Linked DNA regions of Homo sapiens. The protein of the gene in region 3 purifies or fractionates together with the protein of the main gene of each other region. This does not show direct contact. Each region holds a gene or a part of one and is shown on either strand. Other genes may lie near its edges. The genes, in order: TMPO, UACA, HNF1B, HMBOX1 and GFPT2.

What was found.
Region 1: the proteins of HNF1B (region 3) and TMPO purify together in Homo sapiens (affinity purification with mass spectrometry, with the first as the bait; one large-scale study listed by BioGRID). This does not show direct contact.
Region 2: the proteins of HNF1B (region 3) and UACA purify together in Homo sapiens (affinity purification with mass spectrometry, with the first as the bait; one large-scale study listed by BioGRID). This does not show direct contact.
Region 4: the proteins of HNF1B (region 3) and HMBOX1 purify together in Homo sapiens (affinity purification with mass spectrometry, with the first as the bait; one large-scale study listed by BioGRID). This does not show direct contact.
Region 5: the proteins of HNF1B (region 3) and GFPT2 purify together in Homo sapiens (affinity purification with mass spectrometry; one large-scale study listed by BioGRID and IntAct). This does not show direct contact.

The regions. Positions count from the first base shown.
Region 1 is NC_000012.12:98,524,197-98,530,365, reverse strand, and holds part of TMPO (thymopoietin), read right to left. Parts: intron 2,481-6,169; coding exon 2,354-2,480; intron 1-2,353. UniProt on the Homo sapiens protein: May help direct the assembly of the nuclear lamina and thereby help maintain the structural organization of the nuclear envelope. Possible receptor for attachment of lamin filaments to the inner nuclear membrane.
Region 2 is NC_000015.10:70,683,543-70,689,711, forward strand, and holds part of UACA (uveal autoantigen with coiled-coil domains and ankyrin repeats), read right to left. Parts: intron 4,279-6,169; coding exon 4,208-4,278; intron 4,105-4,207; coding exon 3,998-4,104; intron 905-3,997; coding exon 723-904; intron 1-722. UniProt on the Homo sapiens protein: Regulates APAF1 expression and plays an important role in the regulation of stress-induced apoptosis. Promotes apoptosis by regulating three pathways, apoptosome up-regulation, LGALS3/galectin-3 down-regulation and NF-kappa-B inactivation.
Region 3 is NC_000017.11:37,729,718-37,735,886, reverse strand, and holds part of HNF1B (hepatocyte nuclear factor 1-beta), read left to right. Parts: intron 1-2,065; coding exon 2,066-2,330; intron 2,331-4,056; coding exon 4,057-4,292; intron 4,293-6,169. UniProt on the Homo sapiens protein: Transcription factor that binds to the inverted palindrome 5'-GTTAATNATTAAC-3'. Binds to the FPC element in the cAMP regulatory unit of the PLAU gene. Transcriptional activity is increased by coactivator PCBD1.
Region 4 is NC_000008.11:29,010,874-29,017,042, reverse strand, and holds part of HMBOX1 (homeobox-containing protein 1), read right to left. Parts: intron 5,670-6,169; coding exon of another isoform or gene 5,659-5,669; exon of another isoform or gene 5,525-5,658; intron 2,009-5,524; exon of another isoform or gene 1,921-2,008; intron 1-1,920. UniProt on the Homo sapiens protein: Binds directly to 5'-TTAGGG-3' repeats in telomeric DNA. Associates with the telomerase complex at sites of active telomere processing and positively regulates telomere elongation.
Region 5 is NC_000005.10:180,299,816-180,305,984, forward strand, and holds the end of GFPT2 (glutamine--fructose-6-phosphate aminotransferase [isomerizing] 2), read right to left. Parts: intron 5,125-6,169; coding exon 4,957-5,124; intron 2,770-4,956; coding exon 2,608-2,769; intron 1,794-2,607; coding exon 1,749-1,793; 3' UTR 883-1,748; downstream 1-882. UniProt on the Homo sapiens protein: Controls the flux of glucose into the hexosamine pathway. Most likely involved in regulating the availability of precursors for N- and O-linked glycosylation of proteins.

The DNA.
Region 1 (6,169 bases), on a different chromosome or scaffold from region 3:
TCCCTTTTGGAATTTCTTTTTTTTTTTTTGAGACAAGGTCTTGCTCTGTTGCCCAGGCTGCACTGCAGTGGTGCGATCATAGCTCACTGCAACCCTGAACTTGTGGGCTTAAGCAATCCTCCCACCTTTGCCTCCTGAGTAGCTAGGACTACAAGTGTGCACTACATGCCTGGCTACTTTTTTTTTTTTAAATAGAGACAAGGTTTCACTATGTTGTCCAGGCTGCTCTTCAACTCCTGAACTCAAGCAATTCCACCACCTTGGCCTCCCAAAGTGTTGGGATTACAGGCATGAACTACCATGCCCAGGCCTTTTAGAACTTTAAACAAAAACATTTTTTAAAAGTGTTATATATCTGTTGGTACTTGTATATGAATAAGCTTATGATTATTTGGAAGCAGCTTATACATTAAAACAAAATATTCTAAATCTTTATTTGCAACTATACCTATAGCAAAACCTACCAAATCTCTAGCGTCCACAATTTTAGGTAACTTAGAAGATCAAGACCAGATGCAGTGACTCATGCCTGTAATCCTAGGACTTAGGGAGGCCTAAGTGGGAGGACTGCTTGAGCCCAGGAGTTCAAGACCACCCTGGGCAATATAGTGTGCCCCCATCCCTACAAAAACTACAAAAATTAGCCGGGAATGGTGGCACGTGCCTGTGTTCCCAGCTACTTGAGAGGCTGAGGTGGGACTGCTTGAGCCTAAGCTGAGGCTGCAGTAAGCCATGACTGTGCCACTGCACTCCAGCGTGGACAACAGAGCAAAGACCTTGTCAAAAAAAAAAATAATAATAAAATGGAATTTTCTCATCTTGAGGTTATTGCTAAGACCCTCCAAAACTAAGGCATAATCAACACTGCAAAATCTTCATCACCTAAAAGTAATCCAACGATGGAAATCCAGTGTATTTAGTCCTAGGTTTTTGTTTTTTAAGGGTATAATTCCTCAATTCCAATCAAGATAGGACTTTCAAAAGGGTACTTTTAATGATAAATGAAAAAGGGGCTCAGCGCGGTGGCTCACACCTGTAATCCCAGCACTTTGGGAGCCTGAGGTGGGTGGGATCACCTGAGGTCGGGAGTTTCAGACCAGCCTGGCCAACATGGCAAAACCCCATCTCTACTAAAAATATAAAAATTAGCCGGGCATGGTGGCAGGTGCCTGTAATCCCAGCTATTCGGGAAGCTGAGGCTGGAGAACTGCTTGAACCTGGGAGGCAGAGGTTGCAGTGAGCCAAGATCACACCATTGTACTCTAGCCTGGGCAACAAGAGCGAAACCCCGTCTCAAAAAAAAAAAAAAAATAGGGTACTAGGCTAGGAATTTAATAACTTCATTAAGAAGAAGTCTGTCACTAACTCACTTTTTCTTTTTCCCTTATTTATTTATTTTTTTTGAGACAGGGTCTTGCTCCACTGCCCCTGGCTGAAGTACAGTAGCCATCACGGCTCACTGCAACTTTGACTTCCCCCCACCATCTCAAGCAATCCTCCTGCCTCAGCCTCCTAAGTAGCTGGGACAATAGATTTGTGACACCACACCCTGCTAATTTTAAAATTTTCTGCAGAGATGGGATCTCCCTATGTTGCTCATGCTGTTCTTCAACTCCTGGGCACAAGCAATCCTCCCATCTTGGCCTCCCAAAGTGTTGGGATTACAGGTGTGAGCTACTGCGCCCGGCCATTAACTCATTTATTTGGGCAAATTTGCCCAGCTATGTTACCTCAGATTTTCCTCAATTGTCATACAAGACCCACGTCTCAGCAGAAGTACGATATAAGTGGCCAGGCACGGTGGCTCACACCTGTAATCCCAGCACTTTGGGAGGCCGAGGCAGGCGGATCACAAGGTCAGAAGATCGAGACCATCCTTGCTAACACGGTGAAATCCCATCTCTACTGAAAAATACAAAAAATTAGCCAGGCGTGGCAGCGGGCGCCTGTAGTCCCAGCTACTCAGGAGGCTGAGGCAGGAGAATGGCATGAACCCGGGAGGCAGAGCTTGCAGGGAGCCGAGATCGCGTCACTGCACTACAGCCTGGGCGACAGAGCAAGACTCCGTCTCAAAAAAACAAAAAACAAAACAAAACCAAAAAAAAAAAAAAAAAGTACGATATAAGCACCATATAAAACAATCTCAACAATAGAGGTAATTTTGGAGATTATCTAATTCAATCCTCTCATTTTATTTCACTCATTTACAGTCAAAGAAACACAGGTTCTGCTGATAACAAATGATTAATGACAAACCAGTCCTTGGAACCTAAACTGCTAAACAAAAAGGAGAAAATAATTTGGGGTCCTGCTTCAGAGAAAAGATACTGTATTTGAAATTTTATCAACTTACCCACAATAGGACCAGGATTCACTCCGTATTTCACAAGCTGATCCAAAAGATCTTCATTAGTGAGCTCTGTTACATCTAGATCATCTTTATCTTCTTGTCTGGGTTTATCAGTTTTTTTTGTGGCTTTCTGTAAACAAAGTCCAGTAATCATTTCCATATGAATTAAAGTGTTCACTTACTAGATAATAACCTGTATAACATAAACATGCAAACTCACTACCAAATTGGTTTATAGTAATATTAGGCCTTAGCAATTCCATTAAATTAAGAGCAACTCATTATTGGAGAACACTTTCTAAGTTGAACTGTAATCATACAAACCGCACAGCCAAGCAAGTAACTTAAAGACATTGTTGTTAAAATAGTCCATTTTGGATTACCTATCTAAAAGAGATAGTAATGGCATCAAAAATGCAAAAGAGCAACTAAAAGTAAAACTGACTTTGGGTAACATTTTCTTTTAAATAACCTTTTTTTTTTTTTTTTTAATGATACAGGGTCTAGCTATGTCACCCGGGCTGGAGTACAGTGGCTCCATCTCAGTTCACTGCAACCCCCACCTCCCAGGCTGAAGCGATCCTCCCACCTCAGTCTCCCAAATAGCTGGGACTACAGGTGCGCACCACCACCCTTGGCTTTTTGCCTGTGGTTTTTTTTTTTTGTTTTTTTTTTTTTTTGTAGAGATGGGGTTTTTGCCATGTTGCCCAGGCTGGTCTCAAACTCCTGGACTCAAGTGATCAGCCCACCTTGGCCTCCCAAAGTGTTAGGATTACAGTTGTAAACCACTGCACACAGCCTAAATAACCAAAAATTATATTTCATTTCTTAAAGCATATAACTCCAATGGCAACGGAAACAGATCAGCATGAACCATGGAAAGTAAAGCCAGACTGGGCTTAACATTTTTCATCTAAATGATCATGAATGCTACTTACTAACTTTTTGATAATCCTTAAAAATTTAAATTAATCCAGGAAAGTTTAAGACTTTACCATACAGGCTTACACTTAGATACATATATAGAAATGATTTTCTTTTCTTTTTCTTTTTTTTTTGGAGGTGGAGTCTCGCTCTGTTGCCAGGCTGGAGCGCAGCGGTGCAATCTTGGCTCACTGCAACCTCCGACTCCCGGGTTCAAGCGATTCTCCTGCCTCAGCCTCCCGAGTAGCTGAGAGTACAGGTGTGCGCCACCACGCCCAGCTAATTTTTGTACTTTTAGTAGAGACGGGGTTTCAACATGTTGGCCAGAATGGTCTCGATCTCTTGACCTCGTTATCTGCCCACCTCAGCCTCCCAAAGTGCTGGGATTACAGGCATGAGCCACTGCGCCCGGCCAGAAATGATTTTCTTTAAACAGCATATGAGAACTTAAGAAGGCCAAATGAATACAGTTGGCTCTCCATTCTCCCAAATGAATACAGTTGGGTTCTACATATGTGAATTCAACCAACCACAGATCAAAAATACTTGGGGAAAAAAAAGACAATACGACAATAAAAACACTAACAAAAATACAGTATAACAACTATTTACATAGCACTTACATTGTATTAGGCGTTATAAGTAATCTAGAGATGATCTGAAGTATAAGGGAGGATGTGTGTAGGTTACTACACCACTTTATATTAAGGGACTTACTAAAGCATCCCCAGAGTTTGATATCCATGGCCGGGTCCTGGAACCAATCTCCACCCCAAGGATAGGAGACAGGACTGTAAACTCCTTGTAACACAGTTATTTTAGTAGCTAGTTTATGACTTAGGAAGGAAATCTGACAGACTTCATGGTTAAATTATCACCTGTGACACAGTTTAGTCACCAGATTAACTTCTGTACCACCAGTTTACTAAAAATAGTCAAAATAACTTGAAACAAACTTTGAGGGAAAATTTGAAAGTTTTAAAATTAATTTCTACAAAGGCAGTATTTACTGGAAAAACTATAAATTTCCAAGGTTGAACAAATAAAAAGGAAGCAAAAGTACGGATACCTTTTAAGGCTGTGGCAAACAGCCTGACAAATGCCTCAGTGATCACAGAAAAAACATCAGAGTACTGAACAAAAAAATGGCTAATTAAACAATGGCAACATCAAAGTAAATTTTACGAAAAAGGCTAAAATTATCAAGTTGTATGGAATGCTCACTTTCCAATAATATTAGGGGGAAAAATCAGTCATGATTTGACTATGTACTGGAATTACTGTTTTTAACAATAAAAATGTTCTGACCTAGAATTGTCAGGCTCAAATCAAATCTTTTTTTTTTTTTTTTTTGAGACTGTGCCTCACTCTTATCCAGGCTGGAGTGCAGTGGCGCAATCTTGGCTCACTGCAACCTCTGCATCCAAGGTCCAAGTGATTCTCCTGCCTCAGCCTCCTGAGTAGCTGGGATTACAGGTGTGCACCACCACGCCCGGCTAATTTTTGTATTTTTAGTAGAGACGGGGTTTCAGCATGTTGGCCAGGCTGGTCTTGAACTCCTGACCCCAAATGTTATGCCCGCCTGAGCCTCCCAAAGTCCTAGGATTACGGGCGTGAGCCATGGAACCTGGCCTGAAATACTTCAAATAAAGCAAGATATGAGAAATTCTTTTTAAAAAGCTGCTAATGGCTAATCATTCTATAATCAGAAGCCAAAAAACCTTCACCAAAAAAATAGCTGCTCATAAGAACAATTATGTCAACTTACGAGAAATCTTAAATAGACGGCTGTGGAGAGTTACAGTGAGAGTACTTTTAGCAGGCTTTAATTCACATACATTGCACTGACCTAGAACTGTCAGGCTCATATCTGGAAGCAACCCACACCATAATATCCAAATAGTTGCCTAGGGTCTAAGAGTTCTAAGACTTATTTCTTTCAAGAAAAGATTTAATCAAACAAACTTAATCCTATGTTACTGACTTACTCAAATTTTCCAAAAAGTGCAGTCAGGTAGTACAGAAAAACTAAATAATGCTTAAAATAAAAATAAAACATGGAAAAACAATCAATCAGGTTCAAATTATTTGTACATAATCCCCACTACCACGAGAATGTTCAAATTTACTATCAATAAAACATCCAGGAAATTCCAACTTTTCAAACCCGCCTGAGAGGTTTTCAAGAAATCTCTTTGGGCCAGGTGCAGTGGCTCATGCCTGTAATCCCAGCACTTTGGGAGACCAAGGTGGGTGGATCACTTGAAGTCAGGAGTTCGAGACCAGCATGGCCAACACGGTGAAACCCCGTCTCTTTTAAAAATGCAAAAATTAGCCGGGTGTGGTGGCACATGCCTGTAATCCCAGCTACCTGGGAAGCTGAGGCAGGAGAATTGCTTGAATCTGGGAGGCGGAGGTTGCAGTGAGTCGACATCATGCCACTGCCCTCCAGCCTGGGCGATAGAGCAAGACTCTGTCTCAAAAAAAATCTTAACTCTTTTTTTTTTTTCTTTTTCAAGGTGGAGTCTCTTAACTCTCTCGCCCAGGCTGGAGTGCAGTAGCGCCATCTTGCCTTGCTGCAACCTTCTGCCTCCCAGGTTCAAGCAACTCTCCTGCCTCAGCCTCCTGAGTATCTGGGACTACAGGTGCATGCCACCACGCCCAGCTAATTTTTGTACTTTCAGTAGAGACAGGGTTTCACCATTTTGGCCAGGCTAGTCTCAAACTCCTGAGCTCGTGATTTGCCCACCTCAGCCTTCCAAAGTGCTGGGATTACAGGCGTGAGCCACAGCACCCAGCCCAAAATCTTAACTCTTGTTACCTCTATTTGGAAAGGTCTTACCCATTTCTGATTCTTCACCTTGGGCCAGATAATCTGTTTGTAATTGTGTAGCC
Region 2 (6,169 bases), on a different chromosome or scaffold from region 3:
GTGTATTAATGAATAATTATAAATAGCTTAAACACTACATGTAGAAAACTGCTTTATTAAATGAAACTTAAATAAATGGAATCTCATACACCAACAAAAATCATACTATAGAAAAACTATTTTTGAGGGAAAGGCCTTCAAAATAGGTTACATAAAAAAGTAAGCTACAATTCAGATTTACAGTGAATTCAATTTAATGGGAAAAGACTAGAAGGATATTTCTCAAAATGTTAACAGAGGCTTCTCAGTGGTAATGAGTGACTATTCATTGTGCTTTTCTGTATGTTCCTGTTTTTTTTAAAAAAAACATAAAAAATCATGGCATAGGCATTTGGTAAATATCAGCTGACTATTTTACATACATGTTTAAACAATGATTCTTTAAAACTTCGTAAGTATAAAAAGTTGGGAGGTTCACCCCTCTTCATCAAAAAAAAAAAAAAACTTAGTAAAACACTTGACTCTTCCTTCTCAGTTCTGAAGTTATTCCAGTGTCTTAGTGTTCACTGGATAAACTAGATTATATATGCAACACACACTGCCTCAAAGCAAGTGACCATAATGTAAGTAAGCAAATCCATGTTGTAGAGGGAGATGAACCAATACTGTTTATCAGTAAGGAATGTTTTGCTTCTTATAAACTGTAGTTCTACTACCTAAGTCTTTTAAAAAGTGGCTCTTTGTTAATGTGGACTTTTCTAGTTACAGAAAACTGCTGATACCTTTGTTGGTATTTTCCGATGCAGTCTTCAACAAGGTTAGAATGTCCAGATTGTCACCAATTCTTGCATAGTAAGAACTATCATGGCCAAGCGCATCCAGCAAGCTTATATCAGCACCATTTTTAATTAAGACTTCTACTGCATCTCTGCAACCATATTCGCAACCTAGCATGAGGGCAGTTCTAAATGGAAAAATGGAAGAGCAAAAGACTGAGAAAACTCCAAGGAAATATTGCAGAAATATTCTGCCCTATTGTTGAACACTGTCTTAGTGTTCACTGGATAAACTAGATTATATATGCAACACACACTGCCTCAAAGCAAGTGACTATAATGTAAGTAAGCAAATCCATGTTGTAGAGGGAGATGAACCAATACTGTTTATCAGTAAGGAATGTTTTGCTTCTTATAAACTGTAGTTCTACTTGAACACTAAGTTCAAGTAAGTGTTCAACACTACTTGAACACTTACTTGAACACTAAGACATGCTCCCTTCTTGAAGAATAGACACTACTTTAAGAAGTCATGCCTGTTACAGATATAGATTTTACTTTATATTCATTGCATTTATAAAAACATTTGCTTTGTCTTCTATATCCTTATATCCTTTAATTACTTCTACTACCAAACCAACCTCATTTATTCCACTTCTTCAATGTCCTACACGTAAATAATCACCACAAAAATTTTCCACAACTGATACTGTCACCCCATGTGATCAAAACCCAACTTTTTCAGTCCCTTCATGAACTGAACCACATCATGCAAACCTCCCCTAAGAATCCCTTCTCCTCCAAGAGAAGTATCAGATTCCATTCCTGATGTTCCTGCTTAGAAGAACCTTGATTCTTCTACCTGAAGACCTTCACATCTTCAGACTACAACTAACGCCATGCAACATGGATCATTGCTTTATTCTATTGCAATAGAACCACTGGCACTCAAACATCTCACAGTACATCAGCAAATACTAATCATGCAACAAAATAATTGTCATGAAAATCTAGAAGGACCCTAGAAATTATTTTGTCTAATCCTCTATTTTTTAGGATGGGGCTAACCAACACGTAATGAAATGAAATGACATATCCTATATCTAACTCTGTCTTCAATTGTGAATATTGGATCTCTTAAGGAAACTGACTCTTGCCTTTTCTCTGCTATGTATGCTGTGTTTCTCATATTCAAGCCTTGTCCCCCAACTCCCCTGTAGTTGCTGATAAGAAATTCTGTACAAAACAGGCATTAACAAAGTTTTTGTTATTTAAAAAATGCTACATATAAAACAGGAAAAAAAGAAATGAATATAGAGTATTAGAAACTAAGGTTATAAATTATGTTGAAAACCATATGCTATTTAGTCTATACAATATACACTGCCCTGCTTCATTGGCTTTTTGTGAATGCCCAATGAAAAAACATAGATAAAGTGCTTTGAAAAATGTGAGAGCTATAAAAAATATAAAGCACTGTATGTAGATCAACCAGATTATCCCTCTGTGATCCTAAAATTAAATTTAACTTTTTTTTTTTTGAGACAAGAGTCTCGCTCTGTTGCCAGCGCAGTGGCATGATCTCAGCTCACTGCAACCTCCGCCTCCTGGGTTCAAGGAATTCTCCTGCCTCAGCCTCCTGAGTAGCTGGGATTACAGGCACGCACCACCACACCTAGCTAATTTTTGTATTTTTGGTAGAGATGTGGTTTCGCCATGTTGGCCAGGCTGGTCTTGAACTCCTGACCTCAAGTGATCCGCGCCCAGCCGTAAAATTTAATTTTAAAATCCAATTTTCTTCATCATGCTTGGAATCAGATGATAGTATCCACAAAAACAAAGTAATATTAAAAAGCCACTTCTTAATCACATCTTTTTTTTTTTTTTTTAATATTTAAAGAGGTTTATTCTGAGCCAAATGTTAGCAACCATGGCCCATGACACAGCCTCAGGAGGTCCTGAGAATGGGTGCCGGAGGTGGTTGAGTTACAACTTGGTTTTATACATTTTAGGGAGACAAAAGTTACAGGCAAAGGTATAAATCAATACATATAAGGTATACATTGGTTTAGCTCAGAATGTCAGGACATTTCAAAGTAGGGGCTTCCAAGTCAAAGATTTCCTGATTGGGAATTGATTGAAAGCATTAAGCTTTGTCTGGAGAATTGAAGTCAATATAAAGAAATGCTTGAGTTAAGATAAGGGGAGTTGTAGAAGCCAGGGTTCTTTTTTTTTTTTTTTTTTTTTTTATACTTTAAGTTTTAGGGTACATGTGCACAATGTGCAGGTTAGTTACATATGTATACATGCATCATGCTGGTGTGCTGCACCCATTAACTCGTCATTTAGCATTAGGTACAGAATTTCCTCCTTTGAGATGCATAAAGAAAACAATTACAGCTATAAAATCTGACAACTAAAGACTATTTTTTATACTTTTATACTTCTAATAAACTACAAACAATAGAATACATGTTTGGAAGAATAAAATTAAGTCAAAAGAAACCAAAATTTTTACTAGTAACTACAAAAATCCCAGAAATTTTAGTTTAATTTATTGTAATACTTGAATTAAATGGAAGGGGTGTGTTTCAGATACTTTGTGACCATAAACTTCAGAATTGTAATACAACAAGCACCATGATACATTAGACCTACAGACAGAGATAGGGAGAATTCTGGATAGAAATTATTAGAGCACACCAACTAAAATAGTATCAAATACAGAAGCAAAAATAAAGCAAGGGACCTCTGCAGTACAGAAATGGACAGGTTCAGAGTAGGAGATGGCACTGTACCCTGGCAGAGTAAGGAGAGAAAACACCTTGAGAAAATCTATACTGACACATGTCAAGTTCCAGAACACTCAAGAACCACTTTACTCAAAAGATTCACTAATGAAGAAGTAACTACAGATGTACTTTTTAAATTCTTCTCCTATGTATCTTACTTGCACCCATTTCATTAAAGAGTTTTTTAAGCTTAAAACACCTGGGATGTAATTCCTCTCTCCTTCAGTTCTTTGATCCAAACATAAGGCCTAATCACTGCTTTTATTCACATTAACCCTGTCATCTTCCTCTATTTCCCTCTCCTTCTTTCTTCAGCAGACTCTGAAGAAAACTGACAAGTAGATGTTAATTCCAAGGAAAAGCAAGCCAGGGAAGGGGAGAACCCACAGGAAAGAAAGGCCAAGTCAGAGAACAGAGCTGCTGCTTTGACTTGGCCTTTCCATCCCTGTGTATCCAGCTGGTATCTGGGAGCCATGATAAAAGAATTACCTGTTTTGTTTGTCTCTGGAATTAACATCCGCTCCTCTATCTATCAGCAGTTGACATATTGTTGGCCTACTCATCTGAGTAGCCAGAACAAGTGGTGTCCGCCCGTCCTAAGCAACAGGAAAAATAAAACAGCATTAAGACAACAGATCTCCCAAAATGTAGAAGTTAGAATGCATGAGTTGAAATGAGAATAAACATAAACTAACTTACTACATCTTTGGCATTCACAGAGGCCCCATGGTCACAAAGCAGCTGTATGCTAGAAGGACAATCTGCCATTGCTTTAAGGAACAAAAGAAAATGATAAATGGTGAACATCTGTTGGTAAGACACATAGTGTTTTTCTAGGTCCATATAAGGAATAAGTTTTTCAATTTCTAAATTACCAAGCTTCACGTCCTTCACTCTTAGTTTAGCATTATAAGCACAATTTTTCATCTGAAAATGGATTAGACAAGATTATAAATTGTCTACAATTTATTAGGACCAAGGAATAACGTCAACCTTGTAGAAGACAAGAACACACTACTATTCTAAGGATAAGCACAGACAATAAAAATCAAAGCTAAATTTTGTACTTACAGTATATTTTTAAACATGGCTATAACTGACTTGATCCTTGAAGTGTTGGCTCAGTTTTTTTAAAGAATCATATCCATTTTTTATAGAATAGTCACAGTAAGTAAAGTATGAATCATACAATTCATATTTCTCATAAAAGCAGAGATTGCAATGTCTACCTTTATGCAAAGTAAGGTCATTTTGCTAATAATTATAAAATCACATTATGCTTCTTTGACTAACACTATAGTTCATATTTATATTAGGAAAAATTATTGTTAAATTCATAAAGTAGGATTATGTTTACAATCCCCATGAATTTTTTAAGCCTTATGAGTTGACATACATTATAAGCACAAAAAGTACTGACAAAGTGAGCATTCTTTTTTTTATTGGTGAAATAATAGAATTAAACCAAACATAAGAAAATCAAGTAAATTTTCACTTTTCGTCTCTAATCCAGCAAATCTTTTATATAAAATGTATCATCAGCTTTAAGAAAAAGATAAACTGAACCTGAAAACATTAATTCAGGAACTGTAAAATTAGCGACCCTTTACGTCCAATTATAAATGAGAATTTAAAAATGTAAAGCATAATAAATTCCAGAGTTTACAGATTACTAGATCATGAAGAACCGCTTAAAGCCAAAAAGAGAAAACTGCAAACCACCCAGAAATCCTAGACTTTGAGCTAGATGAAGTAAATGAGTTTGTTTATATATCCTCTCCTTTGGGAGTATGTGGGAAGTAGGGGCTTTGGAGATATTTGGAAGGCCAGAGAGTTGAACTGTAGCAGAAAATGCAGTATTTTACCAAAATTTGTTCTCCTCTTCTTCTACTATAGAGTAGGTTTCGGAATATGACTAGTCACCTAGAGAGTTTATTTCTGAGCCTCCCTTGCAGATAAATATAGCCAATTGATTTTGCTCCTATCAGTAGAATATGAATGGAGAATAATCTACTACTTCCAAGTCTGAGTTCCAGACTTTGGGCATGTATTCCACTAGGCTCTCTCCTCCTTCCTGCTAGCTAGAATACGGCTACGACCACAACTCTGCTTCAACCTTGCAGTTAAGGAAGATACTCACAGGTAAGTGGAGAAACAAGATAGAAAGAATTCAGTTTTAAAATGACCATGAGTGACCTGTCAATATATATCACTCAACAATTTTTTTAATAAGCAGCTGATATTGGAGTTCTTTTGTTATAGCAACTTAGTTTCCATCCTAGCTAATGCATCTAACTAATAAGTATAAAGATTTCAATTGGTCAAGTTGTACCAGTTTTTAAAGCAGGGATAATAAAATATATGGTTAACTTACAGGGGTCATTGTGAGGCTCAAATGATAATGGAAAAATGCTTTGCAAATACAGTAATACCCTTCTATATTAAAAAAAAGAAATGCATTGTGTGAGAAATTATCATACAAATAAAATACAAAAAGCAAAATTTTTAAAAATTAAGGTATAAAATTTTGAAGGAAATTTGAAGTATAATATGTCTTCAGTGCAGACCACCTTAATCTACTGCATATATTCCATATACATGAAAAGAGAAAGTAGACTGTTTTTTTTCCTTTGGCCTTATAGTTAAATGTAGGAATATCAG
Region 3 (6,169 bases):
CTTGGGAGGCTAAGGCGAGAGGATGGCTTGAGCCCAGGAGGTCAAGGCTGCAGTGAGCTATGATCGTACTACTGCATTCCAGCCTGGGTCACAGAGCAAGACCTTGTTTGAAAAAAAGAAAAAGTATAACCCCCAAAGGAATTTGGGCCAACATCACTATCATCCTGACTAGGGGTAGATATTCTAAAAGACTAGTTAGTGTCCCTAAGCTTTCAGTCAGTCTCATTCCACAGCTGGGGAGACTAAATGATGAGGGAATTAAGCTGGGGCCCCACATGATCCCACTAGCAGTGACTTCCTGCTAGTACATTTGACAGGGACTCTCTCAGGTCTATAGTGGCATTGTTGGGCACCACTGAAAACAGAGCCCTAAGGTGGCCTAAGAATCCTCCAAGGTGAATGGGCCGAAATCAAAGGCCCCAGTGACACCATCAGTCCACAGTTAAACAAAGCCCAACACCACCTGCAGTTGGGATTGCAAGTCTTGGCGGGCTAGGGGCCCTAACCATTCCTCCCGATGGAGCAAAATGGAAATGAGCCTAAGACAGGTGGTAAGTTCCCTGCTGCTGGAGGCATATAGCCTGGAGGGCCACTTGGTGTGGGGTTGTAGAGGGGATTCAAACGTTAAGTAGTAGCCTGACTTGAACCTTGAGGATTTTGGATCCAGTTGTCCAAAGGAACAGGAAGGATGGCATGTAAATGATGGCACATCATTTACATCACAAAGGGAGGTGGTAGCCTTCCACTTTCTGTGACCTGTGGGAGTAATTACAGGAACTGAGAAAGAAAGTCATCAAGGTCGGGCACGGTGGCTCACACCTGTAATCCCTGCACTTTGGGAGGCTGAGGCAGGTGGATCACCTGAGGTCGGGAGTTTGAGACCAGCCTGCCCAACATGATGAAACCCCATCTCTACTAAAAATACAAAAAATTAGCTGGGCATGGTGCCGCACACCTATAATCCCAGCTACTCAGGAGGCTGAGGCAGGAGAATTGTTTGAACCCGGGAGGCGGAGATTGTAGTGAGCCGAGATCACACCACTGTACTCCAGCCTGGGCAACAAGAGGCAAACTCTGTCTCAAAAAAAAAAAAAAAAGATATTAAGATCCAGAACATAGGGACCCAGAGCTAGGAGATGAATGTATTACGTGTCTTTGCTCAGCAGAGTGCTTAGCCTCCATGTTTATTCATCTTTAAAATGGAATTAATCACTCCTGATGAGCCCTGCTTCATGCAGATGTGAAGACGAGGACAGCAAAGCTTTCTTCTTCGGTAATGTAGATATCAAATCTCATTAAACCATGTGGGCTAAGGCATCACCTCTGGGCCGAGCTGCTGGTTCTCATTCATTCCACAAAAATCTCCTGATGGTCACAGTATGCCTGGACTCAAGGAATTGGACAGACAGGGAGCATCATTTCCAGCTAATTAAACACTACTCCCAGACAGGTCCTGTGTTTGTAGTCTTTGAAATTATTTTGAGATCTAAAGCACATTTTCTTTTTCCAATACAAAGCTCCAGTTATATTTATTTCAAAGCATGTTCCAAAAGGTTTGGGGTTTTTCTAAAAACCTGACTTTATAATGTAGATACCTAGGATATAGGAAGAGGGAGGAGAGGTGGGGAGTGCTATCTACAGCCTCTGAATATTTTGTGCAAGTGTAAATTGTACCTTTGAGCAGTTCTCCCCTGGATGTGAGACTTGATTGAGCTCACCCACTTGACATCAAATACAGGAGTTCAGGATGCAGAGTGTTGCTTCATCTCTGAAGGCCAGTGAGCCAAAGGGGAAAAAATAATAATTTTCTTAAAACTATAGCTGGCTATGTTTGAGCTCCTTCAAAGAAAGGAAAAGGGTGGCTTTGCTGGAGCAACTGAGGTGGGCAGTAAGGGCCTGTGCTGAGGGCTCCCCATCTCCAGCTCCACATGCAGTGAGAGAAGGTTGCAAAGCTTAGTTAGACGAGGGGAATAAAGGTGTCTTCGTCCGTTGTCTGTCTGTCTGTCTGTCTGTCTGCTGAGTGAAGGCTACAGACCCTATCAAATCTACTCCTTTCTCTTTTCAGAATTCAACCAGACAGTCCAGAGTTCTGGAAATATGACAGACAAAAGCAGTCAGGATCAGCTGCTGTTTCTCTTTCCAGAGTTCAGTCAACAGAGCCATGGGCCTGGGCAGTCCGATGATGCCTGCTCTGAGCCCACCAACAAGAAGATGCGCCGCAACCGGTTCAAATGGGGGCCCGCGTCCCAGCAAATCTTGTACCAGGCCTACGATCGGCAAAAGAACCCCAGCAAGGAAGAGAGAGAGGCCTTAGTGGAGGAATGCAACAGGTAACACCACCAGAAGCTCACCTGGGCAGGTGGGCAAGTACACAGACCCAGGAACCCTCCCCTCGGTCCTGGGATATTGAGACACTAGTTATACAGATAAGTGTGGCTAAATCAGAGCTTCTCAAAGTATGTTCCACAGAACCCCAATATCAATTCATTAATCAGTAAGTCTGAGAATCAGCATATGGATACTTCCCCTTAGAGAGTCACAACATATATTAAAGGTTCCGAGAAGCCCTGCAGTCAAGAAACCCACTTAGCTTTGTTGAATTGGTTGTTAACTATGGAATCTTCGGTAGAGTACAAACAACCCCATGAATTATTCTTCCAGGGAAGATACTCTGGAGAATGCTAATTTAAAATATGATACTTGGGAAGCGAAATTGTGTGTTTGACCTCCCTGCAGGCCAGGGTAAAACTTTCCCTTAGCCACAGACTCTAGATCTGGCCTCTACCAATTGTCAGACATGCAGTGGTCCAAAAGGAAACTTGGCAGGAGAGTAAGAATTGGTCAGATCTGTTCAGTCCACTCTGCCCCCGCTGACTCAACAGAGTTCTTTTTACTTGTTAACTACCAGCCAGGCACGGTGGCTCACACTTATAATCCCAGCACTTTGGGAGGCCGAGGCGGGAGGATTGCTTGAGCCCAGGAGTTTGAGACCAGCCTGGGCAACATGGTGAAACCCTATCTCTATTTAAAAAAAAAACAAAAAAACAAAAAAACAACTCTGTGTTATTTTAAGTATTTATTTTTAAAATGTGGTCTTGCTATGTTGCCCAGCAGATCTTGAACTGGGCTTAAGCGATCCTCCTGCCTTGGCCTCCTAAATAGCTGGGATTACAGGCTCTAGCCACAGGGCCCAGCTATTTTTTTTTAAACGATTGGAAAGCCTTGGGAAATCTTTTTACTTCATTCCTGCCCTGTTCTCCCTGACTCCAGTATTGACTTTCTAAAACTTCAGCTCTTTGGTCTGGCCAAGGCCTGTGTGCGCTTTCTCTGTCTCTGGGCTGGGCTGGCCTTGGCTGTGGGAAGAATGCAGCCAGGGAGGTCAGGCTGGGAAGCAGGGAGGCCTGTATTGCCACTGAGTCCTCAGGCTGTGCTCCATACCCCGACTAATGAGATGCCTTGCAGCACCCAGTAGTGTCTAAGAATCTCTCGCACCTGGTTTTGAGGTTTCACCAGCCCTGATAAAGCTAGAGACTGGCCATCTCAATGCACCCTGCTTTGTACCCCACCCAGCCTGCCTTTTGGAGGGGATAAAGCATCTTGCTTCCTGGCACTCTTTCAGGGAGTTCAAGCCCCAAAAGACCAGAAATCCTCTCGAAGTGCTTTGAAGCCACTCAAGACAGAGCCAGCGAAGGGCTTTGCCTTTTATGTGGTGGGAAGAATGGCTAAATAAGGAAGCCCCATCTGGACCTTCCCCTGGACTGCCTGTCCCCGGCTTGCTCTCTTCTCCTCGAGAGCCACACCAGAGCCTAAGCCCCTGACTCCCAGGGCGGCATAGCCTGCTCTGTCCCTGCGTTCAGGCCCACTTCAGCCATCTTCATCAGATCACTCCATGGATTGGCCTTTTCTCTGCATAGGCCTCTCCTCCCCAGCCTTCCATTCTGCCCACGGCCCCTTCATACTCCCAACCAAGACTGCTGTGATTGTGTGTTTTTGGCCAAGCACCAACAAGTCCCCCCGCCCCCCCTCACTCACCATCTCCCCTCCATCCATTCCCAGGGCAGAATGTTTGCAGCGAGGGGTGTCCCCCTCCAAAGCCCACGGCCTGGGCTCCAACTTGGTCACTGAGGTCCGTGTCTACAACTGGTTTGCAAACCGCAGGAAGGAGGAGGCATTCCGGCAAAAGCTGGCCATGGACGCCTATAGCTCCAACCAGACTCACAGCCTGAACCCTCTGCTCTCCCACGGCTCCCCCCACCACCAGCCCAGCTCCTCTCCTCCAAACAAGCTGTCAGGTAAGCAAAGGTTGGGCCTCACTGCCTCGGCAACCCAACCATCCTGGTTCTTGCCACGGATCTTATCTGGTTTAAGGGTTTTCAGAGGAGCAAACGCTTTTGAGATGATCCTAGGGCCGCTCTCTCATTGCCAGAATATACTCCCCTGGAAATAATGTGTGGCTCTGATCAGTTTCCTCCAACTCCTGGTTCAGCCATTGCCCTGTGAGGGCTCACTCGGCTTCCAGGGAGCCCTTTACCCTATTTGTCTCCTTCCCTCTTCTTCTCCCTGTGTGGCTGCTGACTCAGCGGTCATTCTACACTGAGGAGGCTGCCTTATGGGTGGGCCAGATCCAAACCGCAGGCAAACGGGTCGTGATGGCGTGGCAACCCTCACTGTGTTGGAGGATGGCACTCCGGCCACCTCCTCCATCTCTGGCCATATCCTGCCCCTCGCTCGGTCCGGCTGCCTCAGGAGAAGCTCAGTAGCCTTTGGGGACGGCCACTCTGTTGGTGGCCTCTGCTTGTTGGCTTCCGTGTGTCATCAGGGTTGGTGGGGGTCAGTCACTTGAAATCTTTGCAGCAATGAGTTGGGAAAAACTGACCGAGTACCTGCTCCATCATGCTTGATTGAGTGCTCCTGTGTGCTGGGCCCTGGCCTGGATTAGAATGCCTCTGCTGTGGGCTTTGGGTTTGTCAGGATGGAATCCTACAGCCTCCTTGGGGGAAAGCACACCTCATGCTGAGCGCTGTGTTAGGCACAGGCTGGGATGGAGCACTTCTTCTGGTCCTTCATTCTTCTGGCAAAGCTGGCTTCCTAGAATGGATGTGCTCACTGGGGTCTGTGTGGTGCCCATGAGGACAAAGTGTAGCAGCCTCCTGCCTGCTCCAAGAAAAGGGCTTGCGAAAGGAAAGCCAAACACTGTTTCTAACTCAGGGGTGATTCTGAAACCTGTTGGCTCCCCTCACCTGTCGGTTGCCCTTCTGATGAGAAAGGCCTGAGGGCTGGGGGCTGACCCAAGTGTTGAGGGGACCAAAGCCACCAAGACAGGCTCGGAGCCATCAGCTGGGTGGTGTACAAGCATTTGTTCCATGCCTGCTGTGCCCTCCCATAGCACTGCCTCTTCCAGGGCCTCTGGGAGCCTGACAGTGCCCAGCATGAAGGTGGGGCCAGTGCTGGGGGTTTCTGTAGGTCCCACTCCCACAGAGGAGAGAGGCTCAGCCACACAGGAAGAAAGTCTTGGTTACTTAAGAGGCAGAGAAGCCCCTAGGCAAAGACTGGCCTGATTGCAGAGTAACTTCGCCCCTTTAGGGAAATTCAAAGCAGGGTTCTGAGGGTTGTGGCAAATGGCACATGGCTGGCACTGAGCAGTACCAGTGTGCTTGCCCACCACAGCGATCCACGGAGCTGAAGCTGGGAGCTACAGGGGGCGTGGTTGGGGCAAGGGGCATTACTGGGAAGACAATGGCCATTGTGTTGGGACCTGTGATCTCCACACCAAAGTCAGGGAGCCTGGAAGCCAAACAAAGGCCCAGCAGCCTTCTGACAAGCAAGGGCTGTGCTGAGGTCACCACGGGGTCGTTGGTTTAGGCATCCTGTGTGCTGACAGGAGACCCAGAGAGCTAGGGCTGGAGGGACAGGGAGCAGGGCAGAAAACACAGCCTGTGTACTCCTCTGACTGGAGTCTAGGAAGGGCGTGTCCCATGGGAAGTGGATACTCTGGGGTGCCCCTGAAGTCTGGATCTTTCTAAAAATCTTGTAATGTTAGAATTTGGAGGGAATTTGAAGAAAGGAACTGAGGCCCAGAAAGAGGCAGTGATTTGCCAAAGTGACACAGAGCAATGGTAGCAAAACAAGGACTAGAGCTCAGGCCTGCTGGTTCCCACTCCATACTTTC
Region 4 (6,169 bases), on a different chromosome or scaffold from region 3:
CAGAAACAAGGCCTCAGACATTCAGTCCCAGCACAGGAATGTGGACATCAACCTCCAAGGTCCCTAAGGATCCCTGCCTCCTGGTCTGCACACCTCCGTATAGTCCCTTCCCACACTGCACCATGATTAGGCTGTGCGACCAACAGCATGTGGCAGTGATGGTATGTCACTTCAAGGATCAGAATACAGAAGACACTATGACATCTGTCTTGGATGCTTTCTCTCTTATTCACTCAAGGGAAAACTAGCTGCCGTGTGAGGACACTCAGGCAGTGGATGGTGAGGCCCATGTTGTGAGGAACTGATGTCTCTGACCAACAGGCAGTGAGGACCTGGGACCTGTCCACATCCACATGAGTGAGTTTCCAAGTGGACCATCCAGTCCCAATGACTGCAGCCCAGGCTGACAGCTGGACAGCAACCTCTACAGAACTCTGAGCCAGAAACAACCAGCTAAGCCATTCCTGGATTCCTGATCTATGAAAACTATGAGATAATAAATGCTGGTTGTGTTAAGCTGCTAAATTGTGGATAATTTATTGTATAAGAATAGATAACTAATAAAAATTATCACAATCATCCTCAGTTGTTTATTTCCCTTTATCCCCCAATACACTATTATTAATTATTCAAATGTATAAATTTGGCAGCAAAAAATTTCCCTTTAATATAGAGACTTCACTACTAATAAGAATGAGCATCTTTTCCTGTTTATTGACCATTTATATCTTTTCTTGTGAATTTCTATCTGTTGTTCCTTTTTTAGGGGGTTATTCTTCTTATGGGTGCAGAGAAATCATAGCAATTGCTAGTCATACAGAATGCAATTTTTTTCTGGTCTGTCATTTGTTTTTTATAGTGTGCTTTGTGATCTTAATTTTAATACAGTCAAATTTGTCAGTCTTTTGTATTATGGCCAATGGGCTTGAATATCACTGAGTATCTTTATATCTTTCATTTTGTGTTTCAGCCTTTAATATGTATGTGATTTCTTATAGCATGTGATGGAAAGTAAATATTTAACTACTTAACATTTCTGCTTAAACAAGTAAGTTTGTCATCATATAATGCTTTAGAGATTTACAGCCCACCCTAAAACAGAGTTGGCAAATTATACCCACTGCCTATTTTTGTAAATAAAGTTTTATTGAAACATGCTCATGCTCATTCATTTACAGATTGTCTATGGCTATGAATGCACTGGAGCAGAAGAGCTGAGTAGCTATGATAGAGATCATATAACCTGCAAAACCTAAAATATTTACTGTCTGGCCCTTTATATGAAGTTTGCCAACCCCTGGTTTAAAAACATTTCTGCTCTACCCAACATGAAATTCTAAACTGAAACCCTTCTTTAAACAATTTAAAAGGGTTTCATTCTGCCAAAATAAACTGAGAATTCAGTCTGGGCCTAATTGAAAGTTAACTAAGTTTAGACATAAGCAGGAATTTGGGGGCTGGAGGGTTTCACAGTCTTATAGTGCTTTTCTGAAAACAAGTAGGGATTACAGCACAGCAAGAGCTCTGGAATCTACCTAATTAAAATTATATAAATGTTATTCTATAGCAAGGGTGAAAAGGACTAAAACAGAGCCAACCGGTTATCATGGCTGATCAAGATAAAGGTAGAAATAAGACTCAGTAAGGGAATACAACCTCTTGTCCAGGGGCTGACCCTTGTAAAGAAAGAAAGAGCTTCAGGATGGAGGGTGGGCAATAGGTCAGTGAATTCCAGGTAGTAGGCCACATCCATAATTGCGGCATGCTCCTTAGTAAGCAGAGTGGTAAATGGGTACAAATAGAACACAGAACAGAAAGAATCCTAACCAAGAGGTTGAAGGAAATAAGCCAACTAATAATAATGGTTCTTTCTTGGTATTGGGGTTTATTATTAATATTATGCTTCTTTGTAATATTCAGTATTGTCAAGACAGTCTCAAGAACTGAAGGAAATTCAGATGAAATAAAACTGGGCAGGAAGGAAAAGGAAGAGGGGAGAAGAAAAAAGGAGAAAAAGAAGACAGAAAAGTAAGTAGTGGCCTGGTTATTTTGAAAGAAATCAAGGCCGGGCGCGGTGGCTCATGCCTGTAATCCCAGCACTTTAGGAGGCTGAGGCGGGCGGAACACCTGAGGTCAGGAGTTTGAGACCAGCCTGACCAACATGGTGAAACCCTGTCTGTACTAAAAATACAAAAATTTGCTGGGTGTGGTGGCACACGCCTGTAATCCCAGCTACTCAGGAGGCCGAGGCAGGAGAATCGCTTGAACCCAGGAGGCAGAGGTTGCAGTGAGCCAAGATCGTGCCACTGCACTCCAGCCTGGGCGACAGAGTGATACTCCATCTCGGGGTGGGGGAAAAAAAAGAAATCAAGACAGTTTACACACAGAAGGTGAAAAATGAATAATCTTAAATTCATCAAAATACCTACTTTAAAACATAATGTTACATTACTTTTCAGATTTTTTTCTGGCTCCTTTTTCTTTTTCAATGTAGCAGTAGTTAAAAACAGCACAAAAAAGTACTCTGGAAACACTCTATTAATAACAGATTTGTTCTGGAAACCTTAGTTCATCTTGCTTTGGTTGAAATGGATGAAAAGCAAGAGCGAGTTCAAAATTACTGACTCTAACAGAAAAACACAAAGACACTAGAATGCAGGAACAATGTATTTAAGCCTTTAAACTCCTCTGAAGTAAAATACAGGAATTCTGGGTTGGCTAAGGTCCTAACAGGAAAAGTGTGTTGTCTATTTCCTTACAGAAATCTTTTTTCCCCCCATCTAAGTTTCCATTAAAACAAAATTTTGCACCTTCACCTAGCAAATCTAAACCCATGAGGAAAAAAAAAACCCAAAACTCTTTTCATAACTTGTTAAGACATATAAAAATTTGGTAAGTGTTCTCTTTACATATATCATAATGTCCTTGCTGATCAGGGTTAGCTCTGGGTGAGGGGACTATAAGCACATCATTACTACGCCATCCATAGGAACTAACCTCTCCAAAAGTAATTTCACATCTTCCCCCATGTCACACACGTTTCCCTGAGATCTAACACTCTGCAAGTGAAGGACTGGATGTTTCTTCTGATGACATTTATCTCATGTATTTGCTGCATAACCCTCTTGGCAAATTTTATTTAATTGTTTAGAAGCATGCAGAATATGCACCACATGCCAAGAGGAACTCAGCAAACCCTGTCTGCTATAGTAATGTTTAAATTAGACAAGGGAAAAAGACTGTGAACTTAATTTGATTAAATAAAGGGACTTTTGATGTCAACCATCCTGAATTTAGCACTCACTTTTTTTTAAAAAATAGGTATTTTCTTATAAGTGTTTTCATAAGAAACAAGATAAAATGTATTTGATTAGTTTCCATCAGCCTATTTTATTAATATGCCTTGGCAGGCTTTCATTTATGCTGGTAAATTCTGATGATGAGTCTGTTATCAGAGAACTACACTATATCAATCGGGTTATCAGTAAAATTAACCTAAATATCCATTCTATTATTTTTCTTGATGAGTCCACTTAAAGAGAAACTTACAAAAAACCAAAAGCCATATACAACTGGATCCAGACTGAAGAGGTTGAAAAAAAGAACTTCCGCTGGGTGCGGTGGCTCATGCCTATAATCCCAGCACTTTGGAAAGCCGAGGTGGGTGGATCACGAGGTCAGGAGTTCAAGACCAGCCTGGCCAACATGGTGAAACCCCATCTCTACTAAAAACACAAAAATCAGCTGGGCGTGGCGGCACGTGCCTGTAATCCCAGCTACTCCTGAGGCTGAGGCAGGAGAATTGCTTGAACCCGAAAGGCAGAAGTTGCAGTGAGCCAAGATTGCGCCACTGCACTCCAGCCTGGTGGCAGAGCTAGACTCTGTCTCAACAACAACAACAAAAGGACTTCACTCAAAGTATACAAAGAGAAATGCTCCAACGCCCAGGAATAGAGTCATAGAATATACAAACATTTTTGTTTTCTAAATGCTTAAATTTACAGAAGAAAAAAGAAAAAGTAGTTTTTCATTTTGTGACTTTTCTTAATTTTGCATTTTCTTCTCAGAATATATGTAAAGGGATCACACTATTTACATTTACCCTAAAGAGCTATCTTTCCTAGACAGAAAAAAAAATTATGAAATAAAAGAATTACTTGATAAAAATCACTGACAACTTATTTTCTACCTGCTTCTCAAAAGCAGGTCTGGACTGTATAAACCTAAGTTTTTCTTCCTTTTCTTTCTTTCTTTTTAATCTTACAAGGCAGATTGATTTCTTTTGGTCTGTCTCCCCCTTCCTATTACACTTTATTTTTCAAATATATAATACAAGTACATAGTATGAAATTTAGAAAGACACATTAGGCTGTGTAGTTAACTCCTTACCCCTGTACTCCCAGTCACTCAGTTCCCCTCCACAGAGCTATTCTTCCCAGTTCCTAACACAGCTTTTCAGAGATTTCTATGCTTAGATAAGCATATACATGTGTATGTGTGTGTGTTCCCCTACATAAATATGCCCTTGATACTGTTATGTACCTTTTTTACTTATGAATTCCATATCACCTCATATAAATTTAATTCATATAAAGCTGCCTTCAAAAAGTAGTTATATGGCTCCATAAGATTCCATTGTACAGATGTGCCATTAATTTATTTAACCAGTTCTCAACTGAGGGACATCTGGGTGGATTCCAATCAGGTCTGAAATGACTTGCAATGAAGGATCTGCTGTCCTATAAGCTAACATAATTTTAGTTCATCTTAACCAAACATAATAGTAGCTCCAAATTCTTTAGCTAAAATCAAAGGTTATTTTAGTCAACAAAACAAAATCACTTTTATCGAGAAAGAATTCTATGTGATATTTGCCTTTATAATAAATGTCAAAATGCAAAGAAAAAGACAAACAAATTTCAGTTGCTAATACCCAATTGCTGTTAACGCAACAACAACTACCAAATGGCAATTACGAACTTACCCTCTTATCTCTAGCTACCTTTAAATTATGTCCCACAGAAAAACTTGACTGAGAAAACCAGTAGTTAGGATTTGGTTTTTAAACAAAAAATAGAAAGTACTTTTTAAAAGGTGACAATAATGCAATCTTACTGAAAAACAAATGCATATAATTAGAGGAACGTCTTAAAAGGAGGCACTATGTACTTAAAGAAATCAGCTCCTAATTATCAGCTAGATGAATGCTGCTGGTTTCAATTCCCTAGTTCTACCTTCCTCTAATTTCCCAATACTGGTTTCAAGATAAACTAAAATAGGAAATTAAGACTAAAAGCTAAAATAAATAACAATAATTTAAAAAAAAAACCAGCTTTGGAAGAACACTATCAGCCCAGTGCTAAAGCTGGACTCCTGTAGTTAGTATTCCACAACTGGCTATCAGATCAGCTGCAACAATGCCATTGTGGCCCTAGAGCTGCACCTTAGTCGTCCTTCCTATTTCTAGTTCAGGGCTGGACTAGAGCCCAGCCCCGAAACTCCAGTGCGGGAATTTGGCCTTACCAGTTGATTATCCCATTTTGCAATCCCCATCAGAATAACAGATTCAATCAAGAATCATCAACGAATGCTAAGGTCATCGGTGAAAGCTGTTGCAGGAAAGGATATTCATCCAGGGGCAAAGTGTCACCCTAAAGATTATTCACAAACTGCAAAGAAAAGATCTGGTGGTCACCATTTTAACAAAACCATCACACTTGGCATATGAATAGTGCTACAACCTCCTAATGCTGACAGGCCTCTTAATATGCGGCAATATTAGGTAAACACTACCTACAAAGTATTTTTCTCCAGTGTTTTATTGCAAAAATTTTCAAACATACAATAGTGAAAGAATTTTTTAAGTGAAAACCATACTCATACCACATATTTTACTTTATCACATAGCTATCCATTTCCCTAAATACAATTCCATTTTATTTTCCGATGCATTTCAAAATAAATTGCTGCCATTAGTACGTGCCTCCCTAAATAATCTATGAAGTAATCTTGCCTAAAATATTCAGCATGAATCCTGACTTCAGATTTTAATTCTAACTTCCAGCTTACAGAAATACAGAAGATAAAGAAATTAGATATTTGATAATAAAAGTAAATAGAAAAATCCAGCATGTGGGACATTCTGTCAAATTACATGGCTTAAGAAGTT
Region 5 (6,169 bases), on a different chromosome or scaffold from region 3:
AAGCAACATTTCTATCTGCTTCTGCCAGAGATAAATACAAAATATGATTTCTGCCACTCAACTATCTTCCAAGTCTCCCATGAATGCCTCTCACTGGTGGATAACCTAGAAATGTAGCTCCCAGCTTTCCAGCCCCTGTGATACAGGTGAGGGCATAGGACAGAATGGTGGATAACTGGAAATGTAGCTCCCAGGTTTCCAGCCCCTGTGATACAGGTGAGGGCATAGGACAGGATGGTGGATAACTGGAAATGTAGCTCCCAGGTTTCCAGCCCCTGTGATACAGGTGAGGGCATAGGACAGGATGGTGGATAACTGGAAATGTAGCTCCCAGGTTTCCAGCCCATGATACAGGTGAGGGCATAGGACAGGATGGAAATTTGCTGAGTAGCCCATAGGTAATCCTGGACAGGGTTTATGAGATACTAGGGCTACACACACCCGTTGTCATGAAGACATCATTCAGGTTGTGTGTGACAGCACTTACGTAGGAAGCCTAAGTTCTGACTTCACAAAACTTCAGAACTCTCTGGCTTTCAATCTTTCCATCTGATTGTATTAATGAAACCAGGGACTATAATAGCCTTATTGGGAAAAAAATACAAATTTGAGAGTTTCACCCCTCTATGCTGTCTACAGGTTCTGCCCAACCCCTTCCAGGTTCAGTGGCCCCTCTGCTGAGTCCCAAATCTCTTGGATTTGTTGTATCCTGGACAACAGCCCTCCTTTTCCTACTAGAAACCCATAGGTCTCAGGTGTGGACGAGGCCAATGTTACTAACAAACAGGGCTGCCCCTCCAAACACTGCCGAGCTCCTGCACAGTCCTCAAAATTCAAAGTACACAAAAAGAATGAGGTTAACAAAATGCAAACACACACAAAAAAACTGTATGTTCTTTATTGTCCTAAAATTGCATAGTACTTTTGATTGTGCACGCTTTTAAATAGAGAGCAGAGTTGCCCACTTGAAACTACTCTCTTGCATGGGATATTTCAAGCTGTTTTACTATGGGCAAGGAGCAGGGACCAAAATGCTGCCAGGGCTTAAAAAGAGCCGTGATCAGATTAAACAGAAGTTGGAGAAGTGGAGGGATGTGGGCCACACACGAGAAGAAAATGTTGAAGGAGGCTGAGATTTCAACTGGACTTATAGGAGGCATAGGTGGATGCAGGAGGGGCTCCACGGATGTCAGAGAACAGGATTCAGGAGCAGCCTAGAGAGGAAAGAAAAGGAGAAAGGAGTCCAGAGGGCCAATGCCTTGTGCTCACATCTGAGATGAATGCCACCTGCCAGGAGCAAGCCTGGACACAGAGCATGGGTAGCTAGGATGAACAGTTTGGCCGTTACCACGGCTACAGAAAGCCACATACTAGAAAAATAACTTAAAAGCTATACAGTCGTCATTATAAATATCTTGTCTTTTAAAACTAACTCTAGTGTTGGTTATAAAAGGTTCACAGTTACTCTGAAGAGAGCTGTATCTCTATTGCACAGTAGTGGAGAAGTCTGCTCTGATCCCCATGTGTAAACAATGATTCCCTTCTCCTCTGGCGACTTCAGGACACAGAGAAACAGTATCTGCTGTAAGCAAAAGCACTTGGGTAGAAGGCACGTGGAAGCTGTCAAGCTCTACAGGAGCACGCAGAACATGTGGGATGTCCACTTCTCTTCCCATGTAGCATCCCTGCTGTTGGGACAGGTCTGGAATCAGATGAAAGGTGGTGATGGTCTTGTCACGGTCTCAGCCTCATTCCACAGTTACAGACTTGGCCAGATTTCTGGGGAAGTCAACCTAAAATGAAAGAAAGTGACTGTTCAGGACCCCAAAGATCTCAGCAACATGCTACCTCTCACAGACAATTTTCAGAGTACTTAAAAACAAGAGACAGATGTTCACCATGGTCACCAACCTAGAGACCTGCGTCTTGGAGGCAGATTCCTTAGTCCAGAAGCCTCATTTAACCGTATAAGGTTTAGTCCCTCAATAAACATTTACTGTGCACCTGATGTGTGTCATGATCTGTTAACATGATTTAAAGAATAAGGTTCATGCTTTTAAACACAGGTAACTTGGTGTGTACTGTTAAAAATTAACTTTTCTTGCAAGAATATATATGAATTCCATGGGACTTATTTGTTTAGGGTGGAGTGGGAAGGAAAGGTAGGAATGGTTCATAAGTACGCTTCTACTGGGCCGGGTGCGGTGGCTCACACCTGTAATCCCAGCACTTTGGGAGGCTGAGGCAGGTGGATCACGAGGTCAGATCAAGGTCATCCTGGCTAACACGGTGAAACCCCGTCTCTACAAAAAATACAAAAAATTAGCCAGGCATGGTGGCGGGTGCTTGTAGTCCCAGCTACTCGGGAGGCTGAGGCAGGAGAATCGCTTGAACCCAGGAGGTGGAGCTTGCAGTGAGCCGAGGTTGTGCCACTGCCCTCCAGCCTGGGCGACAGAGCGAGACTCAATCTCAAAAAAAAAAAAAAGAAAGCTACTTTAAATAAAATTATTTACTCTATGACTATTTACTCCAAGTATTTAAAGAACAGAAAGGAACTCTGGGGTTATGTCTCTCCTCTCTGCTGTTAGGTGCAGTTTTTAGACGCACGTCATATCCTCGGAGAACAGCCAGGTGGAAGGACAGCAGCTGCAGCGGAATCACGCTCAGGATGCCCTGGAGGCAGTCCACAGTGTGGGGCAGCTCAATTGTCTTATACGCAAACTTGGAACTTTCAGTATCGTCCTTGGAGCACAGTATAATGGGGCGACCCTAGAGCAGAGAAATAGCATCATAAAATAGACCCTCTCTGAAAGAAGCTATCCCTGATGCATACAGAGTATCTGGAAGCTACATTACTGTGATGAGAACAGTCCTCTTTTGCATTTGCTGGAGTCATGGGTGAGGTGGTATGTGTGGGACACAAATGCTTGGAAAGGATAAAGTGTCTGATGCTTTTTGGGGGTTTCTTCCCCTTCCCTGGTAAGGAGATTGCCATCCTGCTGCATCATTTGGCACCCATTTGTGCCTTGCCGAGAGCGGGGCAGACTCACTCCTAACTCTAGCGGGGCTCATAGTCTAGTGGTAGAAAACAAAAACCTAGACAAGCAAACCAAGAAATAAAGATGAATTCCAGGCCGGGCGTGGTGGCTCACGCCTGTAATCCCAACACTTTGGGAGGCTGAGGCGGGTGGATCACGAGGTCAGGAGATCGAGACCATCCTGGCTAACATGGTGAAACCCTGTCTCTACTAAAAAATACAAAAAATTAGCCGGGTGTGGTGGCGGGGGCCTGTAGTCCCAGCTACTGGGGAGGCTGAGGCAGGAGAATGGCGTGAACCTGGGAGGCGGAGCTTGCAGTGAGCCGAGATGGCGCCACTGCACTCCAGCCTGGGCGACAGAGCCAGACTCCGTCACAAAAAAAAAAAAAAAATGAATTCCAAAGAAATGCCACCAAGGCTAGAAAACAGGATAATGTCATTGGGAGACTGGTGAGGTCTCCAAAGCTCTCTCAAAAACAGGAGACATCTGGACTGAACCCTAAATGATGAGGGGACAACCCTCGGCGGAGCATTCTGTGGGAAGGGCATTCCAGACAGCAGGAGCGGCCAGCGCAAAGGCCCGGAGGCGGGCGCGGGCGCAATGAGAGTGGGACGCAGAAGGAAAGCTGGAGTGCCTGGAACTCACTGAAACAGGAGGAAAGGGCCAGATAACGCAGGACTGTGGGTCTCTGTGGCTTGACAGGCAGGTATGGGAGGGTTTTAAGTGGGGAAATGATGCCATTGTGTTTTATACCCTCACTCTGACCTCTGTGCTGAGCCAGGTGGCAACATCTGGATGGGGCACCTCATTGGATTTCACCTCCCCGAAACTTCATGAACTCTGCCCTCCTACCTCAGGGCAGCTGCTGTGTACAAAGCATTTGGTTGGTCTTTGTGGCCGGTTCCAGGAAGGGAGCTCCTGGCTTCTGGACTTTCCCATGTGACAAAAGCATCTTTGTTATTTATGGGAGGTCCCTTGGACTATACCTAACTTTATGCTAAGGTGACGACTCGTGGTGGGCCTGTAGATAGTTCCAGGATGGCGTCTGGCCCTGCTAGAAAGGCCAGCCACATGATTAGAAGGTTGGGGCTTTGAGACATGAGCCTGTCAGTCTGACCTCCCAACCTCCAAGGACAAAAGTGGGGCTGGCGACTGAGTTTGATCACATGGCCAATGGTTCACTCCATCCTGCCTACTTAATAAAACCACAATACAAACTCTGGACACTGGAGCTAGCAGCTCAGGGGAGCTCCCGGGCGACACACAGTGACGTGCTGGGAGGGTGACACATCCTGAGGACACAAGCTTCACATCTGGGGCCCTCAAACTAGGGGTCTCTTCTTTTGGGTTGGCTGTGATTTATATCTTTTATAATAAAACTGTAATCATATAGTCATCTCCTGAGTTCTATGGGTCGTTCTAGAAAATTACTGAACTTCAGGGGAGAGTGGGAATCCTTGGATTCATAGTCAGTTGCTCAGATGTGTGGGTGGACCCCTGGCTTGCAACAGGTGCCTGAATCGAGGGCAGTCTTATGGAAAGCTGTGCCCCTGCCCTATGAGACCTGACCTAACTCCAGGTAGTTCCCATCGGAGCTGCTTGGCCGCAGAACCTGGGGAAACCCTGCCCCAGGGATGTCCACCAGGAGTACCTCCCCTGAGCTCCAGGCTAGGATCTGGTGCTGCTCACAGCAGTGTGGGTCCCTGGGCCCCACCAAAGAGCTGTGTGGGACAGCTGCGGGCTGACCAGCTCCTTTCCAAGTGTGTGCACTCCCCACAGGCGGCCCGGGGGAGGGTGTGTGGTCACAGCCACTCACTGGCCAGACCATCCATCACTGGTACTGGCAGACAGTGGTGAGGTGGGCATGCATGGGGAAAAGCAGGAGAGAGCTGGCCCAGTCCAGTGGAGAGCCCTCACCTGGCGGGCCGTGACTTGCTGCAGGGCGTTCTGGCATTTGGCGAAGCAAGGATCCTTCATAATGACCATGATGACGGGCATCTGCTTGTCAATCAGTGCCAGGGGCCCGTGCTTCAGCTCCCCAGCCAGGATGCCTTCTGAGTGCATGTAGGTTATCTCTTTAATTTTCTGGAAACAGGAGGTGAGATCAGAGTCACACTGGGCAGATGGGGCTGGAGCAGATCAGCCAGAGGGGAAGAAGGGGAACCAGGGGAAGGATGACTCTGGAAGGCAGAGAGCCAAGGGTTGCAAGGCAGACAGATGCCTGGAGTGCTTGACAGCACTGAGGACACCCAGCAAGGGCCTGGGGAGAGGCCTGGCTACCATCCAGAGCATGCACCAGCCCGGGACACAACCTCTGTGTCCCCACACCAGCCCCGGGCACTGCTGTTGTCTCTCTCCAGTCCCACGCACAGCCACCCCTTAGGACAAACAAGTCGGAGTCAGCCTAGCTCACCCCCTGCTCCTCCCTAGCCAGCCACGTGTATAACGACAGCATCGTATTCAGCTTAGCTACACCTTCAGTTAATTATCTGATTAAGCATTTGCCCATTAATAACTTCTAAAGAGTGGTTCCAAGCAAAATCACACAAACTGGGGTGTTATTTGAATTAATTTTTTTCCTGTGTTCAGGTAGATCCATCTCTATTCAGTTACCACAAATCCACGTCATTGAAATGGTGAGACAGTCAAATAAATCATCTCTCGACTCCCCGCTAGCACTGCTGATTTAGGTCAGGGCCACACTGTAAGGAGTGCGGCTCCAGTCTGGAGGCGCAGACAGCTGCAGTGCCGGCCTCCCAGTGACCAGAGGACCATGGGCTCGTGCCAGCAGCCACCTAAACGCTTCTTCCTTCAGCAGACTCATGCGGAGGCATAGCTGCAATGTGCATCTCCCGCCAGCACGTTCAGCCACCGCAGCTCAGCCCCCACCCATGACGCAGAGTCATCTGGGGACTGACAGTGCACCCCAGGCCTTGCCTCTACTGCACTCCAAGAAGCAGCACCTGCCTGTTCTTTAACAGGAGTCAGAATCTCCAGGGGGCAGGTGCAGGAGATGGAGCTCAGTGAGGACAGCCCTGCACTCCCCACCAAGACCAAGGAAATCAACTCTGAATGTTTCCGGTAACCACTTGTAACTGGCATTGTCTTTCTTTTTTTTTTCTTTCTTTCT